Regions from separate parts of the Homo sapiens genome. Here region 1 is linked to region 2. The links come from fine-mapping of genetic effects on gene expression. A gene starts in region 2. The other region holds a variant in brackets. All regions are shown on one strand. Distances are between the middles of the regions. Region 1 holds the start of LOC124902313. Region 2 holds the start of FUT7 (fucosyltransferase 7).

What was found.
Region 1: its variant is fine-mapped to the expression of FUT7 in whole blood (TOPMed, PIP above 0.99).

The regions. Positions count from the first base shown.
Region 1 is chr9:137,097,647-137,103,015 of GRCh38, forward strand. It overlaps MAN1B1 (mannosidase alpha class 1B member 1), which reads left to right. Exons shown (of 13, transcript NM_016219.5): 5 at 182-291; 6 at 2,050-2,235; 7 at 3,359-3,507; 8 at 3,838-4,026. LOC124902313 reads left to right here and starts at 4,033. Exons shown (of 3, transcript XM_047424371.1): 1 at 4,033-4,266. The variant T/C (reference allele first, on the strand shown) is at 3,130.
Region 2 is chr9:137,029,115-137,034,483 of GRCh38, forward strand. It overlaps FUT7 (fucosyltransferase 7), which reads right to left and starts at 2,974. Exons shown (of 2, transcript NM_004479.4): 1 at 2,865-2,974; 2 at 1,060-2,611. The coding sequence starts at 2,877. The coding sequence ends at 1,596. LINC02908 (long intergenic non-protein coding RNA 2908) reads left to right here. Exons shown (of 3, transcript NR_171031.1): 2 at 2,884-4,117. RefSeq lists enhancers at 1-8, 3,009-3,118.

The DNA of each region.
Region 1 (5,369 bases), 69 kb after region 2:
CAGGCACGGGAGCTCAGGACTGAACTGTGTGTTTCCTGCCACTCAGCAGCCTGCACCTCAGGATGATGGGGCCGCTTTGGGTGCAGGGCTGTGCCTTGGCCGTGGGTATGGAGCGTGGGGGTGGGAAACATGGAGCCACAAATGTTTGACGGCAGCTGACACCCTTCCTTCTCCCCCGAAGCTGGAGGGGAGCGGTGATCGAGCCTGAGCAGGGCACCGAGCTCCCTTCAAGAAGAGCAGAAGTGCCCACCAAGCCTCCCCTGCCACCGGCCAGGACACAGGGCACACCAGGTGAGGCCACACCTGCACCCCTTCCTCCCCGGGCGCTCAGGGGCTGGTGGCTGATGGGTGCAGGCTTCGTCTCAGCCATGGTGGGTGGCGCCCCCGCCCTGGTGTGCACCTTGCCCTTCAGCATCCCCCTGTTGTCTGAGTCCTCACAGGCTCTGCAACCTTGGTGACACCATGTGGCTCTTGGCCTGCTGTCCCTGAGCACATGGCTGCAGAAGAAGGTGTGTCTGAGAGGTTTGTGTCTGGGCCAGGCTGCCCCACGGGATCCCTGGAGACTGCTGCCCGTGCTGTGTCCCCTGTCTCGGCCTGGCCAGTCCCAGGCAGCTCTGGGGGCCACTTCATTCTCAGCACCGTTTGTTGGGGGCCTCCCAGGTGCGGGCCTTCGGCCAAGCTCAGTGCATGACCTGAGGCCTCTTTCAACCTCATGACACCCTCTGACACGATAAGCCACTCACCCTCCCGTTCTCCAGACTGAAAAGCAGGGCTGAGGACAGCCACCCCCAGAGTCGTTTGCTTGTCTGTGGGGGCTCATGGCAGGTCGCTGAGTCTGGAGCCCTGCTCTCATCATGCCCCCCAGGTGTCTCTGAGGTGGGGAGGGAGCCCAGAGCCAGGACTCCCAGCCCCGGGCCTGTGAGGGATGTGTAGCAATCTCTGCGGCATCAATGAGGGCAGAGGCAGAGGCAGAGGCATAGACATGCCATGAGCACAAGGAGGCCTCAGAACCTTTCCTGAGAGGACGTGTGGTTTGGTGCCGTTACACACGTGTCAATCCACACATTAGTCAATGTTGGCCGGGCGTGGTGGCTCACACTTGTAATCCCAGCACTTTGGGAGGCTGAGGTAGAAGGATCTCTTGAGTCCAGGAGTTCAAGACCAGCCTGGACAACACAGTGAGGCCCCATCTCTACAAAAAAAAAAGAAATTTATATATATGTGTATATTTGAGACAGAGTCTTGCTTTGTCACTTCACTGCAACGTCTGCCTTCTGGGTTCAAGCAAGTCTCCTGCCTCAGCCTCCCTAGTAGCTGGGATTATAGGCACCCGCCACCACACCTGGCTAATTTTTGTATTTTTAGTAGAGACGGGGTTTCGCGATGTTGGCGAGGCTGGTCTCAAACTTCTGACCTCAGGTGATCTGCCCACCTCGGCCTCCCAGAGTACTGGGATTACAGGCGGGAGCCACCGTGCCCAGCCAAAAAAATTTAAAAAAAGGGAACGAAGGGACTGTAGCGCGTGTGCACAGTGCGATTCCCGTGGAGCACCTGAAGCCCACGTGGCAGAAGGAGCGTGTTTGAGTCGAGGATGTTCATCGCGAGGTCTGCACCCGTCCGTGTTTCACATTCTGAGTTGGCACCACACTCACCCACGTCTCCACAGGCTGTGCTCACTGTGCTGTCCCAGCGCCCTTGGGGCAGCCACCCTTGTCCCTTTGGCCAGAGGCCACCGAGGCCCAAGGAGGGTGTGCCTGCCCAGGCGCCAGGTGGAGGTGCATGGGCCCCAGTCAGGTGGTCGGGTGACAGGTGCCATCCTGTGCAGTCTCCAGAGGTCTCAGGCCCTTGGCAGGCTGTGTTCTCCCTGGGGGCTGCTGCAGCCTCTGTGGCCCTGGCCTTTGCTGTGCCCACCACCGCCCTTCCCGTCGTCCCAAACCCACCGTCATCTTTGCCCCATGGGGGTCACAGCAGTGCTCTGCCTGAGGGTGTCCATCTGTGCCGACGCCAGGACCACGTCCGCCATGGCCTGTGCTCTCTCCCCCCTACTAGTGCATCTGAACTATCGCCAGAAGGGCGTGATTGACGTCTTCCTGCATGCATGGAAAGGATACCGCAAGTTTGCATGGGGCCATGACGAGCTGAAGCCTGTGTCCAGGTCCTTCAGTGAGTGGTTTGGCCTCGGTCTCACACTGATCGACGCGCTGGACACCATGTGGATCTTGGGTCTGAGGAAAGGTACCTGGTGCTTTCTGGGGAGGGGCTGAGCCCTCCGTGTGGGCCTCGTGTGCTGAGGCAGAGTGTGGGTTGCACACGGGGTGAAAGCTGCTGTTTGCATCTGACCATGGGTTTTCCCTTCTCCTGGGTGCGGGAGTGGACGTGTTGGCTGTGGTCAGTTCCTGTTCTTGTCCAGCCACCCAAGGCACACACAGGGCCGCTGTCCCCAGACCTCTGCAGGAGTTGAGTGTGGACTCTTTGGGGGACGTCCAAGGGACATTCCCAGGCTGTGCTTCTCTTGCAGCTGGGGGTGGTGGGATGAGTGACTGTGGGGCCCCGCTGGTCCCAGATCTCAGCAGCATCCTTCATAGACCAGCACATCCACTTTGAATTGGGAGTATGTGTCTTCGGTTATTTAAGCGATAATTTAAACATTTGCCTAATTTTTTGAATAGGTTGAAGACCACCAGTAAACGACGTGTGTAATTTTTTTGGGTCGTAGCCTTTGGTTGTGACCCATTGGTGGCCATAGCAACTGCACTGCTGACTCCGTTTTATTAACAAATGTTGACGACTTCAAGATTTACCCCCTTGAGATAGGAGGTGATATTGAAGCCCTGCAGGGGAACGATAACGCCCCAGACATGGGTTTGGTTTTTTGTTTTTGTTTTTTTGTTTTTGAGATGGAGTCTTTCACTGTCTCCTGGGCTGGAGTGCAATGGCGCAATCTCGGCTCATTGCAACCTTGGCCTCCTGGTTTCAAACGTGGGTTTTTTGGAGACAGAGTCTAGTGGTGTGGCCCAGGCTGGAGTGCAGTGGCACGATCTCAGTTCACTGCAGCCTTCGCCTCCCGGGTTCAAGCTATTCTCATGCCTCACCCTCCCCAGTAGTTGGGACCACAGGCATGCGCCACCA[T/C]ACTCAGCTAATTTTTGTGTTTTTAGTAGAGATGGGGTTTTCCCATGTTGTCCAGGCTGGTCTCTAACTCCTGGGCTCAAGCAATCCACTTGCCTCAGCCTCCCAAAGTGCTGGGATTACAGGCATGAGCCACCACGCCCAGCCAAATGTATTTTGAAGATGGATAGATAATAGGAAAACGTTGGAGCCATCCATTTGTCTCTGCATCCTTTACTGTTTTATGTCATAGAATTTGAGGAAGCCAGGAAGTGGGTGTCGAAGAAGTTACACTTTGAAAAGGACGTGGACGTCAACCTGTTTGAGAGCACGATCCGCATCCTGGGGGGGCTCCTGAGTGCCTACCACCTGTCTGGGGACAGCCTCTTCCTGAGGAAAGCTGTAAGTGTCTTGGGGTGTCCTGCAGGGAGATGGTGGACTCGCATTCAAGCAGTTACCCCTTTAGTGGACTTGTGGGGACGTGACTGTCTTCCTGTTTCCTCTTCAAATGCACTGGAGTCTGTTTCTGAGCTCATATTCGTGAGCTGATGAAGCCACTTTGATCACCACTGGCCTTGTAGAGACATTCACTCAGTGCAGAGTGATGCCCGTTTCCTTGCTGCTGTGTTGACCCCAGAGAGCCTTCAGTGTCTCCACTGAACTGCATGAAAGGGTGTAGACGAGGCCTCTGGGTGACCTGAACGTTGGTTCTCTACTCTGCTCATATACCAGGAGGATTTTGGAAATCGGCTAATGCCTGCCTTCAGAACACCATCCAAGATTCCTTACTCGGATGTGAACATCGGTACTGGAGTTGCCCACCCGCCACGGTGGACCTCCGACAGCACTGTGGCCGAGGTGACCAGCATTCAGCTGGAGTTCCGGGAGCTCTCCCGTCTCACAGGGGATAAGAAGTTTCAGGTAAGGGGGCAGGCTTTCTGGCTGGATGCGCCTCCCCTGGAGCTACCTTTTGCTCATCACAGCAGGTACTGTGTGTGTGTGTGTATGTGCATGTGTGTTTTCAGGTTTTTTACTGTGATAAAACACACAAAACGCACCACCTTAACCATTTCCAGGCGTGGTCGGTGGTGTTACATTCACGCTGTTGCAGGCGTGCAGGTCGGTGGTGTTACACACATTCACACTGTTGCAGGCGTGCAGGTCGGTGGTGTTACACACATTTGGGCTGTTGCAGGCGTACAGGTCAGTGGTGTTACACACATGCTGTTGCAGGAGTACAGGTCGGTGGTGTTACACACATTCATGCTGTTGCAGGCGTGCAGGTTGGTGCTGTTACACACATGCTGTTGCAGGAGTACAGGTCGGTGGTGTTACATGCTGTTGCAGGCGTGCAGGTCGGTGGTGTTACATTCACGCTGTTGCAGGCGTGCAGGTCGGTGCTGTTACACACATTCCTGCTGTTGCAGGAGTACAGGTCGGTGGTGTTACACGTGCTGTTGCAGGTGTGCAGGTCGGTGGTGGTACACACATTCATGCTGTTGCAGGAGTATAGGTCGGTGGTGTTACACACATTCACTGTTGCAGGCGTGCAGGTCGGTGGTGTTACACATTCACGCTGTTGCAGGCGTGCAGGTCGGTGGTGTTACATTCACGCTGTTGCAGACGTGCAGGTCAGTGCTGTTACACACGCTGTTGCAGGCGTGCAGGTTGGTGGTGTTACATTCACACTGTTGCAGGCGTGCAGGTCGGTGGTGTTACACACATTCATTCTGTTGCAGGCGTGCAGGTCAGTGTTACACACATTCACGCTGTTGCAGGCGTGCAGGTCGGTGGTGTTACACACATTCACGCTGTTGCAGATGTGCAGGTCGGTGCTGTTACATTCACGCTGTTGCAAGCGTGCAGGTCGGTGGTGTTACATTCACGCTGTTGCTGGCGTGCAGGTCGGTGGTGTTACACACATTCACACTGTTGCAGACATGCAGGTCGGTGCTGTTACACACATTCATGCTGTTGCAGGCGTGCAGGTCGGTGGTGTTACATTCACACTTGCAGGCGTGCAGGTCGGTGGTGTTACACACATTCATGCTGTTGCAGGCGTGCAGGTCGGTGGTGTTACACACATTCACACTGTTGCAGGCGTGCAGGTCGGTGGTGTTACATTCATGCTGTTGCAGGCGTGCAGGTCAGTGGTGTTACACACATTCACGCTGTTGCAGGCATGCAGGTCGGTGGTGTTACACACATTCACGCTTTTGCAGGCGTGCAGGTCGGTGGTCTTACATTCATACTGTTGCAGGCGT
Region 2 (5,369 bases):
CGCATCCTCAAGTGAATGAAGACCTCCGAGGCCACAGCTCCCCACTCCTCCCAGCTCCTTTGCAGCAGGAAGGTGACCCTGGGCTAGTGAGTGAGGGATCAGCTTCCCACCCCAGCCCGCAGCCTCAAGGCACTTGCTTTTCTCTGCTCAGTCCACAGGGCTGGGTCAGGGCAGGAAGCTACCAGCAGGTCTTTCCCACAAGCCACAGCCATGGGTGAGGGGGGCTTCCTGCCCTCAACCTGCCCACCCCTACCTGGGGTAGGGACAAGCCCTGTGCCCCAGCCCCGGGGGCTTAGCCTGTTGGGGCCCTGGTCAGCACCACCCGTGGGTTGGCCTCTCTCCTCCTCGCCCCACTCTCCACCGTCCACTACAGGGGCTCCCTGGCTGCAGCCGCATCCCCAGTGCCTCCCCAGCACTGGCCACCAGAGGGAGCTACAAGGCACAGGTCAGACCCTGTCACCCCAGACACCCTCCAGCCTGCGGGCCTGGGAGATGGGCGATTTCAGCCTGGCCAGGCCTCTGACGTCCGTTCCCTACTCTTCCCCAACCTTGGCCTGTTTTGGTTTTTGTTTTGAGACAGGGTCTCATTCTGTTGCCCAGGCTGGAGTGCTGTGGTGTGATCACGGCTCACTGAAGCTTCAACCTCCTGGGCTCAAGCCATCCTCTCACCTCAGTATCCCAAGTAGCTGAGACCACAAGCGTGAGCCACCACGCCCTGCTAATTCTTGTATTTTTGGTAGAGATGAGATTTCACTACACTGCCCAGGCTGGTCTCGAACTCCTGGGCTCATCGCCTTGGCCTTTTGGGGGACACAGAAGGCTCTCTGATAAGGGGCCGTCTGGCGGAGGCTGTAGGAACTGGGGTAGCCAGTGGGCAGCCCGGCACAGGGAGGGCTCTCAGGCGGAGGGTGAGCAAAGGCCCAGAAGTCAGGCGACAGGACCCCCCGTGGGGAACAAGCAGCCCCATGGCCGTGGGGGCGACATGTCAGGGGAGGGCAGATGCAGGCTCTGTGGCCCTGCACGGAGGTGACCCATGAGACACTGGCCAGACCCACGAGGCACTGCTCAGATGTTTATTGTCCACCGCCCTCCCTCCCTGAGCCCAGAACAAGCTGGTTTGCTCCCCGTGGTCTCCTGGGCCCCGCCCCAGCCTACACACAGGGACCTCAGAACTATGGACGTGGCAGGGACCCGTGCCTGTGTCTCGGGGACCACAGGGCCTCTGCTACCGAGGAAGCTCGGGGTCCCAGGTTTGGCCCCCACAAACTTCAGGCTGGGGTGCCCCCCAGCCCCAAGGGCCCTGCCTTTCACCCTCTTCCAGCCAGGCCTTCACCCACCCAAGATTTGTTCAGGGTGGGGAGGGTCCTCGGCAGCCTTTCCCCTCCCGTCTGCCGCAGCAGGCACCCGTTACCTCCCTCCCACTCTCACCTCCTCTGCATGCTCCAGTGCCCACCTGCACCCCCCACCCCTGCTTCCTGACCTCTGTGCCCAGCCTCCCGTTAGCCCGCTGCTTGCCGGTAAGGGCCGGATGCCTGGTGGTTTGATTTCGACACCCAGCCCTTCCACCCACACCCACCTCCCCCGGCCAGCGGATCTCAGGCCTGAAACCAACCCTCAAGGTCCTCATAGACTTGGCTGCGGGGTAGGTGTGGGTAGCGGTCACAGATGGCACAGAAACGTTCCCGCCAGTCGGTGAACAGTCGCACGCGGAGCCTGTCACGCCAGGCAAAGAAGCGTTGGTATCGGCTCTCATTCATGCCAGTGAGGAAAGCCGCCAGCTCTCGGGCTGAGCCAAAGTCATCCACATGCACGAAGGCGTCAGCCGGCACGAAGGCCTCATAGGTGGCCCGTGGGGGCCCCAGCACCACTGGCACAGTGCCAGCCACCAGTGCGTTGCGCCAGAATTTCTCCGTAATGTAGTCGCGGTGCTGAGAGTTCTCAAAGGACAGGTAGAAGCGGTACTGGGCCACGGTGGGCACCAGGCAGCTGGCGCACAGTGGCCGTCCATTGGCACGGCCAAAGACATCCACCCGCAGATGAGGCGCCAGCTGCCGGTACAGCCTGGCACGCAGCTGCCGCTCCTGGAAGTTGCTGACCACCCAGGCGGCCACCCTGCTCTTGGCTGGCAGCGGTGGCGAGGGCCCCCAGTGGGGCTCCAGGCGGCCATAGGGCACAAAGATGTCCGAGTCGCGCCGGTAGCTCAGCACCCAGTTGAAGATGCCTCGGAGGTGGCTGAGGCCGTGGGTGTGGCTAGGAGACTCCATGGAGGCCCACACCCAGGGCTGCCCTCGCGGCCGCTGGGCCAGGGGCAGGTGGGACCGCCGGGTCTGCAGCTCGCGGTGGTGGAAGACCACGGCGTCGGCGCTGGCCAGCAGGCTTCGGTTGGCACTCAGGTGGCAGCGGGCGATGCCGTAGCGGGTGCAGGTGTCGCTGGGCAGCTCTGGGGGCTGGTCAGTGAAGGGCCAGTGCCAGACAAGGATGGTGATCGTGGGCTGGGGTGCCGGGGTACCCCGAGGGGCTGACCCCAGCAGCCACAGGAGCCAGAGGGCAGCGAGCAGAGCCACCCCGGCCAGGACCCCCAAGCCTCGCAGCCTCCGGGTGGGGCCGTGCCCTGCAGCAGCACGAGGGAGGGGAGGCTCTGTCACTTGGGCTCAGGGACATCCACACGCCCCACTCAGCGCCAACCCCGTCCTCCCCTCCCATGGGCTCAGGGACACCCACATGCCCCACTCAGCGCCACCCCCGTCCTCCCCTCCCATGGGCTCAGGGACACCGACATGCCCCACTCAGCGCCACCCCCGTCCTCCCCTCCCAGGTTGCCTAGCTGTCCCCAGCTTGGGCCTCCCCGAGGGCCAGACACTCACCAGCATTATTCATCCACAGTCTCCCAGGATCAGTCAGCCAAGAGACCCGAGATTCTCAAATCACGGCAGCCGCCAGAGGTGCCCCTGAAATCACAGCTACGCCCTAGCTCAGCCCCGCCTGGAACTGTGCTCCTTTTATCTCTGCCCAAGGTGAGGGAACTCAGGGGACCTTCCTGCTCCTGCCCCGCCCCTGCCCCCACAACCTTTGGCATCAACCACTGTCCCCACCCCCATCTCGGGGACTTGCTAGTCCTGGGGCTGCTGGGAGGGGTACAGCCACAAGAGGGATGCCAAGCCAGGGCAATATGACGCCCCCACAGCCCACCCCACTGGTCTCCAGAGAGGCCCAGAGATGTCCAGCTGGGCAGGCAGAGGACAGAGAGGCTCGGGCAGGCTTGGCCCAGGGCAGAGAAGGCCCAGGTGCAGGCACCCTGAGCACAGATGGCCCCCCAGCCCCCACCCAGCTACCCAGGCCTGGGCGCTGCAGACAGCGAGTGCACTTCCCCAGAGGGCCAGGTGGCTCCTCCCACGGCAGTATCACCCACTTCCCCCAGCTCACCACCAGCTGGGCCCTGGTCTCCCAGGAGAATCTTACACATTGAAGATGTACTGTGCTCAGCTCTTTGCCGGAAGCTAAAGCTCCCAATTGGGCCATCCCACCCCACTCTGCCACCTCTGCCATCTAGGAACCCAGATGCCCGGAGAGGAGGTCTGTCCTGGGGCCCTTAGTGTCTTCCCACAGGAGCCCAGCGCGTGCCTGCAAGGGCCTGGTCCCGGAATGAACTGTGGATGGAGGCTGCTTTGTCCTTTTCCCCGTCCAGATCCATGCCCATAGACACCGCTGACTATAGGCTGGGCCCAGGGTCCCTTCCTCCAGCCTGCAGCAGAGGGGCTTTCCAGGCTGGAAAGGGAAGGAGTCCTTTTGTCCCTGACGCAAGCGGGTTGGGGGCCAGCACCCGCTCCAGGAAGAGGAAGGGATCCAGCCTGAAGTCCAGACTCCCCGCTCCCTCTAAGCCAGGGCCTGGAGCCTGGAGGCCAGGTTCCTTCTTCTACACCAGCCCACGTTGGGTGCCAGCCAGGCTGGGATGGCCCTGCGGGGTCACCCTGAGCCCCAGCCAACCAACACCCCACTCTCAGCCACAGTGGGAGGCCCCATCAGCCTCTTCACCCAACCACGTTGCCACTCTGCTGCACGGGACCTTGTGTGGTCCCAGGCGTGGCCAGACCCAGACGTCCTGGAGATCTCAATGCAGGTCAGGCTTGGTTTGTTTGTTTGTTTGTTTGTTTGTTTTTTGAGAGGGAGTCTTGCACTATCGCCCAGGCTGTAATCCCAGCATTTTGGGAGGCCAAGGCTTGTGGATCACCTGAAGTCAGGATCAAGTGGTGCGATCTTGGCTCACTGCAACCTCCACCTTCCGGGTTCAAGTGATTCTCCTGTCTCAGCCTCCCAAGTAGCTGGGATTATGGGTGCCTGCCACCACGCCCAGCTAATTTTTGTATTTTTAGTAGAGATGGGGTTTTCCCATGTTGGCCAGGCTGGTCTCAAACTCCTGACTTCAGGTGATCCACAAGTTTCAGCCTCCCAAAGTGTTGGGATTACAGGCATGAGCCACCGCGCCCAGCCAAGTTTGCTTTTTTGTGTGTGGGTTTTTGTTTTTTGTTTTTTGAGACAGGGTCTTGCTCTGTTGCCCAGGCTGGAGTGCAGTGGCGCAGTCACGGTTTGCTGCAGCCTCAACCTCCTGGGCTCAAGCAATGCTCCCACCTCAGCCTCCCAAGGAGCTGGGTCTATGGGTGTGCACTACCATGCCTGGTTAATTTTTTAAAATTTTTTGTAGAGGCAGAGTCTTGTTATGTTGTCCAGGCTAGTTTCAAACTCCTGGCTCAAGCAGTCCTCCCACCTCGGCCTCCCAAAATGCTGGGATGCTGGGAATGAGGACGCGTCTGTCCTGTCAGGTCTTTTGGGGGCTCAGATCGTGTGTCCTGGGAGGAATGGCAACCATGAACTGTTGTCCAGACCTTTGCCCCAGCACCCTCAGAGGGGGCCTGCCTCCCACCACCCCTGTCCCTGTCCTGTTCTACTTTTGGGCCCCAGGGGCTGCTGGCCTCTCCCCGGCCCCACAGTGAGGACAAGGCTGCCTTGGGAGGGGAACCAGGCAGCTGGAGACTGAAGTGGGAGGATCCCACTGTGGGGACAGAGGCAAGACTGGGACAGGGTGGTAGTCAGAGGCCCCCACCCCTGTGGCGCAGTGTAGCCTCTGAGCTGAGCTTTGCTGCGGAACTTGTGCAACGGCTGGAGGGAGGGGGGCTGGAGGGAGGGGGACTTGGAGGGAGGGGGCTTGGGAGGGGGGCTGGAGAGAGGGGGGTTTGGAGGGAGGGGGCTGGAGGGAGGGGAGCTTGGAGGGGAGCTTGGAGGGAGGGGGGTTTGGAGGGAGGGGTGCCTGTGGGCGCCACGGGAAACTGTCAGTGCCTGAGCTGCTTGGCTTAGGGGCTGGCACCAGAGTGGGC